4 separate regions of the Homo sapiens genome follow, and all the other regions are linked to region 1. Evidence: fine-mapped expression QTL. A gene starts in region 1. Each other region holds a variant in brackets. All regions are shown on one strand. Distances are from middle to middle.

Region 1 (5,151 bases):
TGCTTAGAGGATTGGCTCATATGTGGCTGGACAGGGAACCCTAGGCTTGCATACAGGAGTTACATTCTACAAATAATCATGAACAATTCAGAAGGAGCAAATATAGGCCAATGCTAGTAGTCAACTGCATATTTGAATAGTAATACATTGCTGGCTATATGCAAAATTGTCTTTTTACTGTAAAAGTAAATACTAATAATTCAATCTTTCAGCCTATCTTTTGTAAATATGGCACAGTATTTATTCATGGAAAATTCAGTTTTTTACCATGGTGATTGTACCATCCTCTGGTTTGATAAACATCTCTATGATTCACCTGATATTTTAAACACAGTTGGTGGTCACACAATGGCTACAATGTCATACTTAGGCACATTTGGGGGACAGAGGAGAAAGGCCATTGCTGATGAGCTCAGAGTGGCAGTGCTTTTATTATCCAATTCCTTCATAGCCTTTGTATGGGCTTCCTTAGCTGTGGCATTTAATTAACGTGTGAACATACTTCTAAAAAGAAACTTAAAACAAATAGAAGATTACAAAAAAGTTTTCAAGAAAGGAAAAATAAATGTTCCTTTTAGAAGACCTTCAGTGAAAAGTAGTTAATATTTTCAGTAGTGCTTATTATTTTTAATAGCTCTGGCTTTGGGGTAGGCTTCTGCTTCTGCCAGTCCCAGGCTTGCAAAGATGCAAACGACCGTCCACTAAAGAACACCCAGAATGCAGTGAGTGAAAAATGAATTTAGTTTCTCAAACTGTTTCAGTCCTCTGCACAGTTAAGGAAAAGAGAAATTATATGAATGCTTAAAATCCACCGGTTATCCTCCAAGCTAATGTTGGCCAGTAGTTTTCCATATATTTGGTTAAACCTTCCAGAAAGTGGCAGAATTGAGCGAGTTGAGGGTTCCCCCCACTTCTTTCCATCTCAGTGTACTTTCTGGAGCAGTTTGTAATTTTTTTTTTTTAAAAGCTATGAAGTGTCTTTTTAAAAAGTGGAGGTGCTTAGCAGGCAGTAAAGGATATGAGCACTGAAACTAAACATTCCCAAACGGATCATTTCCATCCTTATTTGAGGAATTATGCATTCATAAGGCTGGTGTGATTTAGGAACAGGTTATTCAAAGTGCAAATAGATATCTTCATGAATGACCAGAGCATATAAAAAACAAATTGTACTTAAGGTCCTAACTCGAGTTTATTGTGCACATATATCTTCTAAAAATGTGGAGTTAACCTACTTAGGGGTTACTGACCAGGGCTTTTAAAAGGCACAGGAACAGAGGGCTGAAGTCGTTAACACTAGACTGAGAAGCACGTTTAAGGGTAACAATGCCACCTCTTTGGATCAGAAGAGTTCCTGTTTGTTATGCAATGTGTGCACTTCATTATTTACACGATTTCACTAGGTGAATGGGAGCTGTGTACACAGCCAGGTGAGCCTGCAGCAGCGCCCCAGACTCTGACAGCGAACACCCTCTGTCTACTGCCTTCTGCTAGCCCTGCTTTGAAACAATACCCTTTTCTGGAAAAAAAAAAAAAAAAAACACAACCCTAAATCATAGCTACTTCTCTAGATAACAACCATTTTCTTTTCTTAAACGTTTTTAGGAATTAATAGAACTTTCTTGGAAAAATTTCCAAACTCGTTTCCACTGCGCTGAACGGACGATTTAAAAAGTAAATACTCAGAAGATACTAAGAAGATTCCGCTGGAGAGTCTCTTTTTATTGTGTTACGGGGTCTCCTAGCCCTCTCCTTTCTCCTACCCACGGCAGCCCATCTCTCTCCTCCAGGACCCCTTCTTTTTGGTATTTCCTGGAGTACGGATGAAAATGAATAGGTGAGCAGCCTCTGGGCTAGGCCAGGCACACAGGGGTCCCGAGTGACCTTGGGAGACTTGCGGGCTTCTGGAAGGAAGGCTCGGGCGGCCAAGCAGGAGTCGCCGCAGCGAGGAAGCGCCAGGAGGCGGCGGGGGCGACCCCGGGGGAAGGGCGGGCGGGGATGCGCCGAGGTTTCCGTGACTTGGGACTAGTCGCCCCGAGGCGCATTCTAACTGTCGGCTCCCCTGGCCCCAACGGCCAGAGAGAGAAGGGGGCGGATCCTCGCGTACCAGACACGCCCCGGTCGGGTATAAAATTCGCCAGGCGCTCGCTCCCCAGGCCACAGCCGCTCCCTCGCTCTGCTGGGGCCTCCGGACGCGCTTCCCACGCGGGTCTCTGGAACACTCGGTCCGAACGCACGCCTGCTTGCACTCACACTGCGGTTCACACCCGGAGGCGCTCTCGCACTCACACTGCCGCTCACGCGTGCTCACACTCCCCCACGCGCGCTCCGCTCCGGCTCCAGCCCCGCGCCCAGCGAAGGCGCAGGCACTGCTGCCGAGAGCGCCGAGGGGCCCCGCGGCCTTCCCATGGCGGACCTGAGCTTCATCGAAGATACCGTCGCCTTCCCCGAGAAGGAAGAGGATGAGGAGGAAGAAGAGGAGGGTGTGGAGTGGGGCTACGAGGAAGGTAAGTGGCCGCGAGTCGGGGTGTCCGGGGTCCCGCGGCGGCGTCAGTGTCTCGCCGAGCGCGGGACTCGAGTCCTGCTGCCGCTGCGCGCTCCGAGCACCCCCACGCCCCCTCTTTCCCACGGGGGTCTCTGCCACTTTCCCACTCCCCTGGTGCGTTTCGGGCGGGAGGCGCTCCAGGGAGGCGTGCTCGCCGCCTGCGCTCTTCCGCCGCCTGCGCTCTCACCCGGGAGCCTTCCGCAGGGCTGGCGTTCGCACCTGCTGCGGTCCGGAGGGCGGGCTAGCCTCCAAGCCGTGGCTGTACCTTTTATGTCTTCTGAGTAGTCAAGAAGAGCAGCGGTACATTTTACTAAACACCTGAGGAAGACAGTGTTAGCGTGAAGAATTCGTTTTTGGCTTGGAGACTTTGGGGAGAAAGTGTTTCTGCCTCTGGTCTTTTCGTGAAGCCTGCTAGCAATGCTCAAGTCTTTCTAAAACATGTCCTAAATTTCAGACTGAATCATTGGGTTTGGCGAGAAGCGGTTGACTTTCTGAAAAACTCGAGTTTCCTAGATTTATTCCTAAAGACCTAGGGCTCCTATTAGAGCCAACCAGTAGTGCTGATGTTTACTACATATGTTGAAACCAATATAGAATATATAATTTTAATTATAAAAAATTTGGAAAGACTATGGGAATATGTATGTACACAGATATATACATATGCACACTTTAAAATACTACACTTGCATTTCTGATAAGGGGCGTCTATTTACTAGCATGAGAGTTAGGGTTCTGACTGTCACTAAGTATGTTGAAAGTTACAGCTGTTTCCCAGGTACTGAACGTAATTGAACTAATAAGCAGAAGAAATTGTTCTGGTATTCTTTTTTCCTAATCACTTAAAAATGACCCAAATTTCCTAGAATCATAAATTATTATGTCTTTGTTGACAAATACAAATAGAATATTTTGCTAGTCCGGGATTTTGTGTATGGTATTTGATAATAACAGATCATTCAAATAATGAATGCAAAAACAAATAGAATTACCATATTTCATCTGTATAGTGATGGTATCATTACTCTCTTCATGATATCAAGGGTTCTAAGTGTTTAGTTTTTACATGTTAAATTTTACTGTAATTTATTTTTTAACCTGTTTTTAATTTATTTCATTTTGTTCTTAGGTGTTGAGTGGGGTCTGGTGTTTCCTGATGCTAATGGGGAATACCAGTCTCCTATTAACCTAAACTCAAGAGAGGCTAGGTATGACCCCTCGCTGTTGGATGTCCGCCTCTCCCCAAATTATGTGGTGTGCCGAGACTGTGAAGTCACCAATGATGGACATACCATTCAGGTTATCCTGAAGTCAAAATCAGGTATTTTAGAAAATATGTTTGTGTGGTCTTTTAAACTAGAAGTCAGCGTAGAGTTATTGAACTGTGATTTAACTTGCACAATTTAAAAAGTACAACTGACGTATCTCTATTTTCAGGATACCTTTGTATTATAATATAAAGCATTTTTGGGAATTACCTTCTGAAACAATTTTGAAAGGACAAAAGAGTGAAATTATGAAGATTATCAGTCGGTTGTTCTGCTTCTTATGATGTTACTGGAAAAACCTTAGTTTGATCACCTTATACCTTGTGAAATATGAGGACAGGTACATGCAGGTGCAGTAATCTGCGTTTTGTCCAAAATTGTTGATTAGCTTAAATCACTTAGATAATCATAATTCTCTGTTTTGCTACTTTGTGAAACCAAAGATTAGAATTTATTGACATAACGTGGCATTCAAGGTAGACTTCTCAGGTTAATTTTCTCTACTGTATTAGTTTGCCAAAAATAATTTTAACTAATAACAATAAGAAACAGCCTCTAAACTCAGCCAGAGATTTAAATGGTAAACAAACCTCTTCCTTTTATTTATTTATTTATTTATTTATTTAAGTTCCATCCCATGAAACTTCTCCTACCACTTGCAAACCTATTTGAGATGGATCTGAAATGTTCTGTGCAAAAGTTGTTAGGTAATTACCAAGGAAATCAGTTTTTGGCTTTATCGTAGGAAAGAGGAAATCAGATTTTTAAAAAATGTAGCATTAATAGCATGCATTTCATAGTGAATAATAACTGTCTTTTTCTTTTGGGAAAAATTAAAGTATGTTGAAATATTAGGACGTACTTGATAAATAGAGACTGTGCTCGAAAATTAATTCCAAGTTGATAAAGTTGATACCTCAAACTATAAAATCTTTAGGTTTGTTATTAATCAAGGCAGCTGTTGATTTCCAGCTATGGATTTATTTTATTCATTGTAAATGTTTCTAAGCTTTAATTTAGAATCCATGAGATAGTCATAGATTCATGTAGTCTCCTTCGCTGTTCTGAGTTTAGTCAGCATGTGAGCATTGCCCAAAAGAGTTACTGGGCTTTATATGTACTTAGTCAGAGTCAGTTTAAGATGGAAATTTCGACTTGAATTTTTTTGGGGGTGTGGGTTTAGCTTTGATGGGACATTACTTACTGTTTTTTAAAGGATATTGTAAAATTATTGAATGCTGACTGTTCTGGCATATAAAAAGCAATTTAAAGAAGTACATGTGTGTTGATGTGTTGAGATGCTTTGAACTTCCGGAAATAAATGTTTATATATCCACA
Region 2 (5,151 bases), 57 kb before region 1:
TGTTAGCTTGATGGGGTTCCCTTTGTAGGTGACCTGCCCTTTCTCTTTAGCTGCCTTTAACATTCTTTCATTTTGACCTTGGAAAATCTGACAATTATGTGTTTGGGGATGATCTTCTTGTGTAGAATCTTGCAAGCATTCTCTGCATTTCCTGAATTTGACTGTTGGCCTCTCTATCAAGGTTGGGGAAGTTTTCATGGACAATATCCTGAAATATGTTTTCCAAGTTGTTTGCTTCCTCCCCCTCCCTTTCAGGCATGCCAGTGATTCTGATATTTGTCCTCTTTACATAATCCCATACTTCTTCGGTGTCTGACTGTCTTATTTCAGAGAGCCAGTCTTGAAGTTCTGAGATTCTTTCCTCAGCTTGGTTTGTTCTGCTGTTAATACTTGTGATTGCATTGTGAAATTCTTACATTGTGTTATTCAGCTCTGTCAGATCTGTTAAGTTCTTTTTTATGCTGGCTGTTTTGTCCTTCATTGGCTCCCCATTGCCCACAGAATAAAGTGCTGCCTCTCCTTTGCTTGGCAGTGAGATTCCTCATGGGCCAGTCTACAATCCTCCTTTATAACAAATGTCTCACAATTTTCTTTCATGAAGCATGGGCCAGACCAAAACAAACTCTTGTAGCTCTCTGTCGTTGCATCCAGAAATCTTGACTTTGTTCCTTTCCTGCTACATCCTTTCTGTTTACATTTTCCTTCACTGCGACTCTGGGTGCTCCACTGCTAATGCTTGTTTCAGGCCTAACTCAAATGCCACCTCCTCCCTGACATCTTTCCTAATCCAGGCCCCCATAGTCACCTTTCCTTGTGAGGTCACAGTGCATGCTCTGAGCCATGCTCATAACCTTGCTTTGTCGTGATTTAGGATTTTAGTATGAGATTCTTCAACAGGGTAAATGGAGATTTTTGTCTACATTGTGGAAGGAATATGGGAACTGAGACATTCAAAAGGAATGAAATTTGAGTTAGACAGATGTCAAATACACCTCAAGCGTGTTCTGGGAAAGAAAAACTGAAGGCCTTTACTTAGTAACCACCTTTCAGCGTTTTTTTCCTTTAGGATATCATTTTCTATATCGGGACTGGAGAACAATACCCCTTACTTTTTAAAAAGACATTTCTTTTACCCATAGAAGAGGGAAATTTTAGATAAAATAGAAGATTATGTTTTGACTCTAAAAACATCAGTAACAAAACTGCAGCATTTCTGATGAAAGAGCTCATGAGTAAGTATACAATGTGGCAAAAAAAAATCATCTTCATTCCAAGAGAGAACCATTATATGACTACAATATGGAGATCTGAAGTGCTTCAAGGCAAGGTGACCCTGTGCATTCTGAAGAACTGAAACTCCAACTGTTGCCTGGTGGACAATATGTTCCATGGAAAAGAACGAGATGTGGAAAGGATTTAGATAGGGAGCTCCACATTTGAGAGTTTGTCTTAGTCTATTTTGTGTTGCTATAACAGAATATTTGAGACTAGGAATTTCTAATAAACATAAATTTATTGGCTCACAGTTCTGGAGGCTGGGAAGTCCAAGATTGAGAGGCTAGCATCTGGGGAGGGCCTTCTTGCTGTGTCATGCCATGGTGATAATAAAATAATACTTTATAAAAATGAATTTGGTAGCCACAGGTATGATGGTTTGGGGAAGATGATGGAAGGGTGATTACAAAGTTATTGCCTTGGCTCTGGCAATAAGAATTGAGAACTTCAACTAGGACAAGGGCAATGGGAATGGAGAGATGGGGATGGACAGAATGCATGCTGTAATGTAGCCTCAGGATAAAGAAGTTGAATGAGTTTGGCATGCAGCAATGAAGAGGAAGAAGTAAAAGGTGAACCCAACGGTACAAGCCTGGGCAACTACAAGAATGGTGATCCCATCACAGAAACCAGAAATGCGGGAGGAGTGGGTTTTGGAGTTGAGACAATGAAAAGAAATGTTATAGATACTATAGATAGACTATTACTAATATTTTAGATAAGTTAAACAAACAAAAAAAGTTCAGTGAAGTTTTGAACACAAAATCCTGAAGACAAGAGGTTTCAAATGTTGTAGTGAGTTGTGAAGGATAAGTTAGAAGGAAATGCCTACCTAGCCACACTGGAAAGGAAGTTTGGTTTCCAAATCATCTCAATCCATCGGCTCAAGCAGGTAAATATTTTTGTGGAGAAATCTCTCAGGAAATTGTTTTTATAGCTGCTTATATAAACATCAAATATTTACTTTCTGGCAAGGAAATTTTATGCTAAATAAAGGGGATCCCTTGTGTTTACTATTACAACAAAGTAAAAATAAATGCCAAACAAGGTGGTTGTTAAAGTAAAAAAAAAAAAAATACACTGAAACATCCTTTACTGAATCCTGTTAATATTGAGGAAGTAGCACTATTTACTTCTGAGTAAGGGTTAATTGTCTCTGTTAGGGACTGGAGGATTGGGGAGCAGTTTTTATTGCAAAACAATTAATTTGCTCCTCATTCCCACCTACTTCCAGATCTCCCGAGGGTCTTAATTTTAATTCAACTAACTTGCTATGAAAAACACATAGGTAGCTTCATTTTAAGTGTTTTTTTAAAGTCATTTTTAAAAAGTTGTGGCAAAGAAACTGTACCTGTTTATCAGGTAATTTTAACATTAGGCTGTTTTTGTAGTCTTCCTTCTAGAGTACCCATTTACAGTATATGGTAATATTCATAGTTATATACTTAACACCTTAATAGTGGCTTCAAATATTTGGCAAAAACAGTTACTTGTTCAGTACATATTTGGTATATATGTACCACATGCTGTTAAATGTTTGACATGGATTATTTCATTAATCTCCACAGCTTGTATTATTATTATTACAGTCAATCTTCACTATTCATCACTTCGGTATTTGCAAATTTACGTATTTGCAAAAATTGATTTGCAACCCCAACTTCAATACTGGTGATTTTGCTGTTTGAGATGGCCCCGAAGGGTAGTGCTGCAGTGCCTTCTGGTGTTTTAAACACAAGAGGCTGTGAGGTACCTTATGGAGAAAACGGGTGTGTTAGATAAGCTTCCTTCAGGCAGGAGTTGTAGTGCTGGTGGCTGTTCAATGTTAGCTAATCAGCAATATTTTATTGAGGAAATAGCACTATTTACTTCTGAGTAAGGGTTTAATGTCTCTGTTAGGGATTCA[A/G]TATGCTGTGTTTAAACAGAAACACACATTACAAAAATGTATTGATCAGTTGATGGAAATGTGACCAGAGGCTGGCAGGGATCTAACCCCATATTTCCCATAAAAGCACTGGCTCAGTATTCACAAATTCAGTGTTTGCAGTCACTTTAGAGTGTAACTACCATGAATAATGAGAATCAACCATCATCTCCACTTCGTAGATGAGGAAGCTGAGACCTGGGTCACATGCCTGAAGGCTTTCTGAATCTAAGTGGACCCCATTTCAGCTCAACTTAAGGACCTCAATCCTCTGCTGCTTACAATTGTCCCTTTGCTCCTTGCCGTGCTCTCCTGTTGTTGATATTTTCATTTCAGCCATTCAAATTGTGAGTAACATTTCTTCCACTTTGAGTTTTTTTTTTTTTTTTTTTTTTTTTTTGAGATGGAGTCTTGCTCTGTCGCCCAGGCTGGAGTGCAGCAGCGCGATCTTGGCTCACCGCAAGCTCCGCCGCCCGGGTTTACGCCATTCTCCTGCCTCAGCCTCCTGAGTAGCTGGGACTACAGGTGCCCGCCACCGCGCCCAGCTAATTTTTTGTATTTTTAGTAGAGACGGGGTTTCACCGTGTTAGCCAGGATGGTCTTGATCTCCTGACCTCGTGATCCGCCCGCCTTGGCCTCCCAAAGTGCTGGGATTACAGGCGTGAGCCACCGCGCCCGGCCTCTTCCACTTTGAGTTTGAAAGTTCTCATTTCCTGGCCACCACCACTGGTGCATAGGAATTGGAGATGGCTTGACAAAACAGCCTAGTCTTGGGCATTGGGACTTCTCAGCTGTGTGTTGTCTACTCATCCTGGTCGACAGGGTGTGTGTGCCTAGAGCAGCTGGAAGTGTGGGCAGTACGGTGGTGGGGGCAGAGGAAAAGTCAGTCCTCATATGGGGTCAAAGGAATTGTCAACCTTTGTTCTTATCCCCAGTAATTCTGAGCACAGCACCTTCAAACCTAGTGTTATTGTCTACATTTTATCTTTGGCCAACATTTTTAAGATTTATGATGGGCACATTGTATTAGTCCATTCTCACGCTGCTAATGAAGACATACCAGAGACTGGATAATTTATAAAGGAAAGAGGTTTAATTGACTCACAGTTCCGCAGGGCTGAGAAGGCCTCAGGAAACTTACAATCATGCTGGAAGGGGAATCAAACATGTCTTTCCTCACATGGTGGCAGCAAGGAGAAGTGCAGAGTGATGGGTGGGGAAAGGCCCCTTATAAAACCATCAGATCCCATGAGAACTAACTCGCTACCATGAGAACAGGATGGAGGAAACCACCCCCATCATTCAATTATGTGCATTGGGTCCCTCGTGCAACATGTGGGGATTATGGGAACTATAATTCAAGATGAGATTTGGGTGGGGACATAGCCAAACAATATAATTCTCCCCCTGGTCCCTCCCAAATCTCACGTCCTCACAATTCAAAATACCATCATGCCCTTCCAACCATCCCCCAAGGTCAACTCATTCCAGTGCTAAGCCAAAAGTCCAAGTCCAAAGTCTCATCTAACACAAGGCAAATTCCTTCTACTTATAAGGCTGTAAAATCAAAAGCAAGTTAGTTAGTTTCCAGATACAATGGAGGTATAGGTATTGGGTAAATATACCCATTCTAAATAAGAGAAATTGGCCAAAACAGTGGGGCTACAGGCTCCTTGCAAGTCCGAAATCCAATAGGGTAGTTATTAAACCTTAAAGTTCCAAAATGATCTCCTTTGACTCCATGTCTCATATCTAGGGCGTGCTGATGCAAAAGGTAGGCTCCCATGGCCTTGGGCAGCTCCGCCTTGGCTTTGCTAGGTACAACCCCACGGACTAATTTACTATATTAGTCCATTCTCACACTGCTAATAAGGACATACCCAAGATTAGGTAATTTATAAAGGAAAGAAGTTTAATTTACTCACATTTCCACAGGGTTGGGGAGGCCTCAG
Region 3 (5,151 bases), 34 kb before region 1:
GCAAGTGGGACCATAGAGCCAAGGAGCAGGGTAGGGGTCAGCAAATGGAAAAATTACCAAGAGGGAATCTCTGGGGTAAGGTGAATTCAGGCTAAACTGACTTAGCAGGGGTCTTGCGAAAACTGGATTTTACATGGAAGTGCACAGATGGGCCTAGAAGAATATTCAGAAGGCTGAGTAGAGTTTGGCCAAGCAAAGATTCTTTGTCTGTATCTATGAGGCCTCTAAAAAGGAAAGCAGAGTAAGCTCGGAATAATTTTTAAATGATTCCAAAAAAATAGGTGCATGGAGACTAGATTTTTATAAAGGTCAACAGCTTTGAAAACTTCATTCTGTTAAAATCAAGATAATCAGTTTCCCAAGTGATCTCTAAGAATAATATAGGAAGTCATGGGGCTGAATAATAATAATAGTAGTAATAATTAGTGGTCACCCCCAAAAAGTAGGTGCATGGAGCTTCTACATATCTTTTGTAAAGAGGTGGGAGTCACAGAAATGAATGACACGAAAATTGTGAGATAGGCAGGAAGTCGCACTCCTAGGTACTGAGGACGTTCTCTGCACTGACACACCTTAGCAGACCTTCAGACAGACTTAATGGGGAAGCCAAAGAAGCTTATGCTCAGGGCCCATCACTTTCACAGGGTACCTTGCAAGGCCCTTGGAGAGGCTCTAGCAATTTTATATTCTTAATTTTATATTATTTTGAGGAGAGTAATTTTAGTGAAGTATGTGTAACATTGTATAAAGAAAAATGGACAATTTTGCATTATTCTGTTATTGAGCAAATGGTCTCACTGCTTGATGTAATTAGAAGCCATACTACGGCACCAGCTTTTGAGATAAAAAACAATTCATTGAGAGGCTGACACAGAAGGCATGGCTGAAATCTGTCTCCCAAATTTGAGTCTGCGGCAAGTTTCAAGGGATTGGAAGGCAGAAAGGATTTTGGTGTGGTAAGGTCTGATTGGAGAGCTTCAAATGTGACTATTTTTGGTAAGGTACGTTGAGGCTGATTTTAGCCCTGGATCTTCCTGGCCGTCAGACCCCCTCGCTTTTGAAATGGTTCTGATGTTCAGGTTCTGGTTGTGTCCTGGTCTTCCTGGTTCCGTGGGGAGGAATTGTTGGTTTTGGATGTCAGAGGTCAAATCTTTCCTATTGTACATGCCTGGGCCATATGACTTGCAGTCTTGGCTCTGTTATATCTACAAGGTACTTAGACATTCTATTATCAATAGAGTAGGCCCAGTTTGAGATGCTCCTGTGGTTACTACCATTCTTCCTGGAGAGGACCGCTTACAGCCTCCCAGCCCCAGTTGTGTAAGTTTCCCACAAACCTGCATCAGCCTCAGCTGGATTGTGCTTCTGCAGAGAAACCCTTGTACTCCCTTCTCTCTCCCCTATTCCGGCCGTGAAAGCAGGTTCTGCTTACCAAAGTCCTCTGAGTTCTGAGCGGTTTTGGATTCTGGTTTGTTCTTTGATAAAGACATAAATGACAGGACAATTGTTTCCTTGGGCTGGAGTAATGAGCTCACATTCTCAACATTAAACTTAAAAGAAATAAATATTTAAAAATCTAGCATTCGTGTTACAAAATAAAGGCATAAGATATGAGAAACTTGGCTACAGTATCATCTGTGAAGAAAATAATTGTTTTGTTTCACTCTGTACTCAAAGTGTCAATAGTGCTAATGAGGTTATTAAAAAGCTCTCGAGTTCCCACCACACGTAGAGTCACCAGGCAAGCAGGAAGGGTCCACTGCGTTCTGGGAACCTGTTTCCTGAGGGTTAAAAGCATAATTTTCAGAAATGTAAAATCACAAAAATAAAATAAATGTGTCAAATATTTTATTTAACTCATTAATTAAAAACCATTTAAAATGAGATTTTGATTTGCAGAGATTTATATTCTCTGCCAGACAAAATTCATTTGCATTGTCATGCACGGGTATCATTTGCATAGCTATGGGCAGGAAACATTTGCATCGTTATCCATTTTCTATAACTTAAACCCTATTCCAACAGAGTTGTAAAATAGCCTAGTCAATCACAGGCAATTGAAAGTGCACGTCCTGTGGAATTAGAGAATCCCAGAGGGTCTGCTAACAATGTCCTGCCCTCCACTGAAAGGACACCAGGAATCACTTTGGTCTGTTTCTAAGACTTGGACCATTTTTTTACGTGAGATATATTATGAAGAGAAGAATGTTTATCCAGAGTGTAACCAGGAGAGCAGAAGCTCTTGAAATTATGTATTAATATTATGTGGACACACGATAGGACCAGGAATATTTTCAGCCGGGCAAAGATGAGATGCACTGTGGACAGTGATCCAAGTTATAAAATACTAAAGAACTGTCATGAAGCAAAGCGCTGTCCTTATTTTGTGTAGTTCCAGAGGTCAGAACCAGAGTAAACGGGGTTGGGGGTAGGGGTAGGAGGGGGTAAGAAGCTACAGCAAAGCAGATCTTAATATATGAAAAACTTATTAAGAAATGGGAGTTTTGGGCCAGGTGTGGTGGCTCATGCCTGTAGTCCTAGCACTTTGGGAGGCTCAGATGGGTGGATCACTTGAGGTCAGGAGTTCAAGACCAGCTTGGCCAACACAGTGAAACCCTGTCTCTACTGAAAAAAAAAAAAGAATTAGCCGGGCGTGGTGGCATGTACCTGTAATCCCAGCTACTTGGGAGGCTGAGGCAGGAGGATCACTTGAACCTGGGAGGTGGAGGTTACAATGAGCCTAGATCATGCTAAAACACTTCAGCCTGGGTGACAGAGGGAGACTCTGTCTCAAAAAAAAAAAAAAAAAGAAAAAGAAAAGAAAAAGAAATAGAAGTTTTGATTTGTGGGTTCTCTGTCATTGAAAATGTTCAAGCAGAAGTTATATAATCTTTTATAGGAATGTGAAAGGAAAATATCTTGGGCCCATGAGGGAAGGCAGGTAACTCCTTTATGGAGTTTAAGCTCACTTCCAACAGAGAAGATGAGTGTGTGTGTGTGTGTGTGTGTGTGTGTGTGTTGTTGTTGTTGTT[GTTT/T]TTCCTGCTTCTAGGATGGTAGAGAGCAGTCTTCTGCCTGAAACCCATTCCTAGATAAGTAACTGAATTAGGGTTTAGCTTGGCTAAAGTTAAGATTAACAACCAACTGGTCTACATGTCAGAGGCATTTGAACCAGAGCAACTCCATCTTGAGTAGAGGCTGGGTAAAATGAGGCTGAGACCAATTGGGCTGGATTTCCAGATGGTTGGGCATTCTAAGTCACAAGATGAGATAGGAGGTCAGCACAAGACAGATCATAAAGGCCTTGCTGATAAAATAGTTTGCAGTAAAGAAGCTTGTCAAATCCCACCAAAACCAAGATGGTAACAAAAGTGACCTCTGATCGTCCTCACTGCTACACTCACATCAGTGCCATGACAGTTTGTAAATGCCATGGCAATGTAAGGAAGTTACCCTATATGATCTAAAAAGGAGAGGCATGAATAATCCACCCCTTGTTTAGCACATAATGAAGAAATAACCATAAAAATGGGCAACCAGCAGCCCTCAGGGCTGCTCTGTCTGTGGAGTAGGCATTCTTCTACTCCTTTCTTTTTTTTTTTTCCTTTTTTTTTTTGAGATGGAGTCTCACTCTGTCACCTGGGCTAGAATGCAGCGGTGTGATCTCAGGTCCATGCAATTTCTGCCTCCCTGGTTCAAGCGATTCTCCTGCCTCAACCTCCCGAGCAGCTGAGACTACAGGCACGTGCCACTACACCTGGCTAATTTTTGTATTTTTAGTAGAGACGGGGTTTCACCATATTGGCCAGGCTGGTCTCAAACTCTTGACCTCAGGTGATCTGCCCACCTTGGCCTCCAGAGTGCTGGGATTACAGGTGTCAGCCACTGCGCCCAGCCTACTCCTTTATTTTCTTAATAAACTTGCTTTTATGTTACTCTATGGACTAACCCTGAATTCTTTCCTGCACGAGATCCAAGAACCCTGTCTTGGAGCCTGGATCTGGCCCCCTTTCCTGTAACATGAATTTCTCCTTACCATTAGAGGGTTCAGTGATCATGTTGTTGGGGCTTTGTTGTTTGTTCCCATTTAAAGTTGTTGTTTAAGGATCCTAATTCTAGTTTGGAGATGCATTTGAAAGGTCTTCTCTATTGCTTTTTGTCCCAAATTTTTAATCTTAATTGAGTTTGTCTGTGTGCATTTGCATGAGGAACTAAACTGTTGTTTTGATATGTTAATGAGAGACTGAGTTTTCTTAGCCCTGAAGAGAAGGGGCATTTTGCTCCTTCCAGCTGAAAGGCTTCCCTGGGTGACCGGGGGCCCCATGGGAGTGTCTGGGAGGTTGACCACCCCATGACGTGCAGCAGCCCTGCAAGGGAATCCCCAACAAAAATTAATTTTATAAATGGCTCATCTAGGTAACACATGTAAGGGCTAATCATCTGGTGTTTTGAGCCCTCTCTGAGGTCACAGACCTCTGGAGGGAGAAACTGAGACATATAAAAGGGTTGAAACTACTCAGTGGTGACACACTGTGGAGTCCTGCCCACAAGCAGCACATGTTGATCCACCACACAAAAACCATGGACCATAGCTCAGTTCCTCCCTTAAAAAAAAAAAAAAAGAAAGAAAAAAAATGGGAAACAATCTAAGAATGATGAGAAAACAAGGAGAATGACCCCCTTTTGAGCAGTCTGTAGGTTTTATGGCACCTCTACTTGCCAAAATAATATGGTCTTTGTGCACATTTACATTAAGGAAAAAAGAGCCCTTGGCTGGGCGTGGTGGCTCACCCCTGTAATCCTAGCACTTTGGGAGGCTGAGGTGGGTGGATCTCCTGAGGTCAGGAGTTCAAGACCAGCCTGGCCAACATGGCGAAATCCCATCTCTACTAAAAATACAAAAATTATCCGGGCATGGTGGTGCATGCCTGTAATCCCAGCTACTCAGGAGGTGAGGAAGGAGAATCACTTGAACCCAGAGATGGAGGTTGCAGTGAGCCGAGATCACGCTGTTGCACTCCAGCCTGCGTGACAGGAGTGAGACTCCATCTCAAAAAACAAAACAAAACAAAACAAAAGCCCTAAGTGTCAGGCCTCTGAGCCCAAGCTAAGCCATCATATCCCTTGTGACCTGCACGAATGCATCCAGATGGC
Region 4 (5,151 bases), 41 kb after region 1:
CAGCATCCTTTAACATTTCGATTGTGCACTAATCCTTTTCACTCATCCTTTTCTTCTATTGGGCTATAAATTTCTTATTTTTGTTTATTTACATCCTGGATTCTTTTATAACAAGATTTGAGTCTTTGCATTTCCAGTGCCAGAAGCAGTGAACACTAAAACCCTAGATACTGTCGGTGCTCAATAAATGTTGAGATGAGTGCTGCCATTATTTCAGAACTCTTTCATCATCGTGGCTCTCATTCAGGGATGAGCAGGGAGAGGATTGCAGCCATTAGTCACTGATTCACTGTATAGAATGAACAGATCCAATCTATAAATGACTTACATTCTATAACAAGACCCGTTGACAATCTCTTTGCTTTCTTTATTTTACAAAATAATAAATGAAGTAGGGAAGTTATAGCAATTTAATTGCAGCTATAGCCTACAATTCAGGTTTTTTTTTTTTAGAAAATAAAATGTAGGATATTTCCTGGAAATCAAGAAACCAGTGTTGAAGAATGAGTTTTAATTGCTTCTGATTTTACATTAAATATAAAACATAAAAATGATGTAGTTTTTCTTTTCTTTGATCTATGACTGCACCAAGCTTTTCCCAATCTTTTATAGTGAATTTCATAAAGGAAGCTTCATTTTTGGGAGAAGAGTCCAATGGTGTTATAAAGCCCTGTTCCTAAGAAGGCAGGAAATCAGTCAGCATTTAAAGAGGCAGCCATTCTGCTTTGAAATAAGATCTTCTTTTTATAAATTACATAGCACTAGTGCCTTTTACTAAGAACACTATAAATACCTTTTGATATTAATGTCTTCATGGGGGAAGTTGCTCTGAAGCCCTCTGTCACATTCCCCTATTTCTCTTCTACCTATCTGTATACAAGACTTGGTTAGGTTTTGGCAGACATAACAAGTAGGTGATAGCTAGAGATAGAATTTCGAATAATTTATGTTCCATTCCATGCTTTACAGTATTTTGTCACTGTTATATCTGTCTACACCTTGAACGTCCTTCTCTGAATAATAGCAGCATAATATATTGACAGTGATGACTTAAAGCGTAGCAGCATCTGAGAATAATACACACTAAATCTTGATTTATCTGCTGATGAATGGGCTGCTTCATATAATTATGAGTGGATCTGGAAAGAGATGGTGCTTTCTCTGTTAACTATTTCTCAGTTATTTAATGACCCATTTTGTGACTTAAATGTTCTACTTTCTGTTTCCTTTTCCCCCTTTTTTTCCTTCTTTTTCCAGTGCTTACTATCTTCTTTCTTTCAATTTCCAGTATCATAAGAACAGCTGAGATATAATCTTTTTTTTTCTTTTTCAAAATTTTATAGCCCCCTCTGAGTGCTCTGAGAAGGGCTGTTTTGAGTGTGGCAGAGCCTGGGTGGGTGAGATACTTGGCTTCTGGAACTCAGAATCTATTGGGACCTGCTACAGTTTTCTATAGTTGGATTTTTTGGGGGCTGAGGAAGGCAATTAAGCAAAATCAGGACACAGAAATAAAGATCTGTTCTTGATGATTTTTTCCCTCTGTGAAGCTATACTCTATAGTGTCCTGGCTCAGAGGAAAGTTCTTAATGACTATACATTGGGTAGAAAGTGGTTTACAGGTCCAGTTACATCTGAGTTCATGGGCTGCATTGAATATTTATTATTCATCAAAACTTAACAGCAGCCTGTTATTTCTCTCCAGTTTTACTTTTAACCATTAAGAAAATAGATAAGAATATTAAAAAGTCAAAGGTGAGCTTTGCTCACTCTCAACCAGTGATTTCAGCTGACTTCTAATGTCTGTTTTCTGATAATCCTGCCTACCTTATAGGCTGATTGGCCTTGCTCCACTTGTTTTATCCTGATGTCTCTGTGTTCTCCCTGTGTGCCTTTCACTGTCTTGAAACTGCCATCTCAATAATCTAAAAAACAATAGGTCCAAAGTCTCTTTCTGTCCTCATTTTTCCTTGTTTCTTTGCAGCTGTCATAGCTTTGCTGCTAGTATCTCCTTGACAGTATTGATGCCCACACTGTCTTCTAGAAAGTCTGTTCTCTTTTAATGGCACTTTGGAATTTTCTGAGTTCCCTCTTGCATATTTGATAGTCCCTCTTTCGTTATCTCACCATTTTCCAAAGCTCAGTCTTTGGTCCCCCGTCAGTTTCTCTCAAGACTTGATCCATGTATTAGTCTGTTTTCATGCTGCTGATAAAGACATAGCCAACACTGGGTAATTTATAAAGAAAAAGAGGTTTACTGGACTCACAGTTCCACGTGGCTGAGGAGGCCTCACAATCATAGTGGAAGGTGAAAGGCACGTCTTACATGGCGGCAGGCAAGAGACAGAGTGAGAGCCAAGTGAAAGAAGAAACCCCTTTTGAAATCATCAGATCTCGTGAGATTTATTCACTACCACGAGGACAGTATGGGGGGAACTGCTCCCAAGATTTGATTATCTTCTACAGGATCCCTCCCACAACAAGTGAGAATTATGGGAGCTACAATTCAAGATGAGATTTGGGTGGGGACACAGCCAAACCGTATCAATCCATGAGTGAACCAACTCTACAAGGTCACATTTCTCTAGGGCAAGCTTGTCCAACCCATGGCCTGTGGGCCACATGCAGCCCAGGATGGCTTTGAATATGGCCCAACACAAATTTGTAAATTTTCTTAAAACATTATGAGATTTTCTTGCAATTGTTTTTTTCTCATCAGCTGTTGTTAGTGTTAGTATATTTTCTGTGTGGCCCAAGACAGTTCTTCTTCTTCCAGTGTGGCCCAGGGAAGCCAAAAGATTGAACACCCCTGCTCTAGGGGTATCTGCTCCCTGTACCTTTAGCCCTTTCTCAAGGCAGCAGCAGTTCTGCACCTCTCACTAATGGGGCACTAGTTTGATTGTTCTGATGTGGGTTTACACTCCTATCTAAAACTGAATTCA[A/T]TTGTGGCTCACACCTGTAATTCCAGCTCCCCTGGAGGCTGAGGTGAGAGGATCACCTGAGCCCAGGAGTTCAAGGCTGCGGTGAGCTGTGATTTTGTCACTGCACTGCAGCCTGGATGACAGCAAGACTCCATCTGTTGCAAAAACCAAACCCTCAAAACACCCCTGAATTTATCTCCCTTTTGATAAAATGATTTTGGTAGAAATCCCAGTTATCTCCCCTCTTTCTCTTCCTTTTTCTTCCTGTCTGTTGGTTGAAGTTCTCTGTCTCTTTCTCCCTTCCCACTGTCTCCCCTCCTCCCTGCACCCTTTATTTCTGGCATCTCCAGCCTCCATCTTTCTGTCAAATGCCCATCAGTGCCTAGGAGGACAGGTAGGATTTGTCTGGGTGTCAGGGCAGATTGGGGAAAGGCATTCCAGGTGAGTGGGCATAAGCAGAATGGGGAGGCTGTTGTGAGGAGTCAGGGTCATGCTTGGTTTGAGCATGTGGGGAGAGTTAGGGTGGGGAAGGATGTGGTTTGAGAAATGTAAGTCTGATATGGATAGGAAATAAAGGAAATCAGAGATTTTCAACAGAGGAAATGTGGTGAAAGTTGTGTTAAAAAGAGATTAGTCGGGCTTCATAATGTAAATGCCAGGGCCCAGGAGAGGTCTAGATGAGCTCTGGAGATAAAGGCACGGGGGTCCCAGGTCTCAAGCCTGGCAAGCGGGGCAGGAGGGGGAGTTCTATGAAGAGTGTGTGAGTGGGAAGCTCCTTTGAAGAGGGTTGATGTCAGTTGTAGAAATGTTCATCTTGAGGTGTCAAGAAGACATCTGAAAGGAAAGGTCCCTGCATTTGCAGTTAGGAGATGTCACAGAATTTGTATGAGTGCCCAGGGCTGGGGAAAAGGAAATTTGTGAGTCATAATTGCCTTTTCAGTGTTTACTACTTTTTCCGTTCCTCATGATTCATTCTTTGGTACTTTGCTGCCGTCGTATTATTTATGTTAGTAATAAACCTCATTTGTCGTGAAGATAGCTTTCTGTTAAGCTGCCATGAAGTCTTCAAACTTATTTTTCTCAGTGACAAATGATGATAAGGCTGTGGCATGTCGCAATTTCTTAACTTTGGACAAATTTATCTATTCTGTGAGTTAAGTGCATTAAGATGAACGTTTTGAACGTTTCACAGGTGCTAATGGTAAGGCAGCATAATCAGTTGCGGGAATATGAAGTTGTGAGTCCTGTAGCAAAAGCTCGGTCCAAGATTTTCCCTGAAGCTGTAAAAGGATGCATCATGGTTGTTTTCCTGTGGTCCGATTTTTTAACAGAAGACATAATGGTCATCATGCTGCCAGAGTAATAATGGATCTTGGCTGTTTTATGTCTTTGTAACACTTGCCTCCTGTTGGTGGGCTGGGGGGAAGAGTTATAAGGAGTGAGGAAGGACTCAGCTTTAATTGTTACGGAAAACCACTTTCTTCTACCCTGAGGTGCCCAAGTGTAGGAGGAGGCCAAACCTTTTGCCTTTGGAGGGAGAATGGCTGAAGGGAGCCTGGAGGCAGATTCTTTCAGCAGGAGGGATTCTGCTGTTGTTGTTGGTAGCCATAGTAGGTCTTGGGTTCAGGCTGCAAGAGGCAGCCCCTCAGCCACCTGCTGTGCAGTGTGTTTACCAGGTAGAGCAGGTCCAGGCTCTTGAAGGCCTGTGGGGCAGGGTCCTGCCTGGAGCCATCTTTAGTCCAGTGGACCCTGGAGGAGTAAGTGACCCTATGCAGTGACCCGTCTACTTCTAAACAGATGCAGTGCTAATGCGGCCGACCCTTGCTCTCCTTAGAAATGGTAAGTGGCATTTACATACTTGGTCTAAACTATAATCCAGTTGGCTGCTTTTCTTTGTCAGAATCCATCATCCTGCTTCCCTGCCTTTGCTGGCTATATATAATGCTAATAACAGTAAAACGTGATAAGAATATAGGAAAAAGAGTACTATGGGAAGACAGAGAAAAGCGTGAATAATCCAAGCTTTTAAGATACAGTCTCCTGTGTTACAGAGAGACATGCTGAAAGAAGTTAGTGACTAGTGAAGTTCACAGAGCTAAAGAGTTGTAGGACTGAAACAAGAATCTAAGACGAGATTCCTAGCAGAGGTCTTTTATGAGAGCACATTGCCTCTCAGAATAATGGAGCTGGAGAAGTGCACAGGGTTGCCGCCTCTGTATCCTGCCCTCTCCAT

Alleles and levels. Alleles are on the strand shown, and positions count from the first base shown. SD is a standard deviation of normalised expression in the study named. Not every link is listed here.
For the expression in synovium of the gene that starts at base 2,155 in region 1, GTTT is the low allele of the variant in region 3 and T is the other (large effect, 0.90 SD a copy in Steinberg 2020).

What was found. PIP is the estimated chance that this variant, and not a neighbour inherited with it, causes the effect.
Region 2: its variant is the best candidate, but not a certain one, in a credible set for the expression of CA8 in whole blood (TOPMed, PIP 0.73).
Region 3: its variant is the best candidate, but not a certain one, in a credible set for the expression of CA8 in synovium (Steinberg 2020, PIP 0.59).
Region 4: its variant is the best candidate, but not a certain one, in a credible set for the expression of CA8 in whole blood (TOPMed, PIP 0.73).

The regions. Positions count from the first base shown.
Region 1 is chr8:60,278,404-60,283,554 of GRCh38, reverse strand. It overlaps CA8 (carbonic anhydrase 8), which reads left to right and starts at 2,155. Exons shown (of 9, transcript NM_004056.6): 1 at 2,155-2,507; 2 at 3,675-3,866. The coding sequence starts at 2,408. RefSeq lists a silencer at 1,972-2,180 and an enhancer at 2,173-2,679.
Region 2 is chr8:60,335,596-60,340,746 of GRCh38, reverse strand. LOC105375864 (a long non-coding RNA gene) reads left to right here and starts at 1,569. Exons shown (of 7, transcript XR_001745925.1): 1 at 1,569-2,167; 2 at 3,382-3,546. The variant A/G (reference allele first, on the strand shown) is at 3,182.
Region 3 is chr8:60,311,942-60,317,092 of GRCh38, reverse strand. The region is part of intron 5 of LOC105375864 (a long non-coding RNA gene); the gene reads left to right. Among named protein-coding and RNA genes, the nearest start is that of CA8, 33 kb to the right of the region's middle. The variant GTTT/T (reference allele first, on the strand shown) is at 3,033.
Region 4 is chr8:60,237,049-60,242,199 of GRCh38, reverse strand. All of the region lies in intron 3 of CA8 (carbonic anhydrase 8), which reads left to right. Among named protein-coding and RNA genes, the nearest start is that of CA8, 42 kb to the left of the region's middle. The variant A/T (reference allele first, on the strand shown) is at 2,940.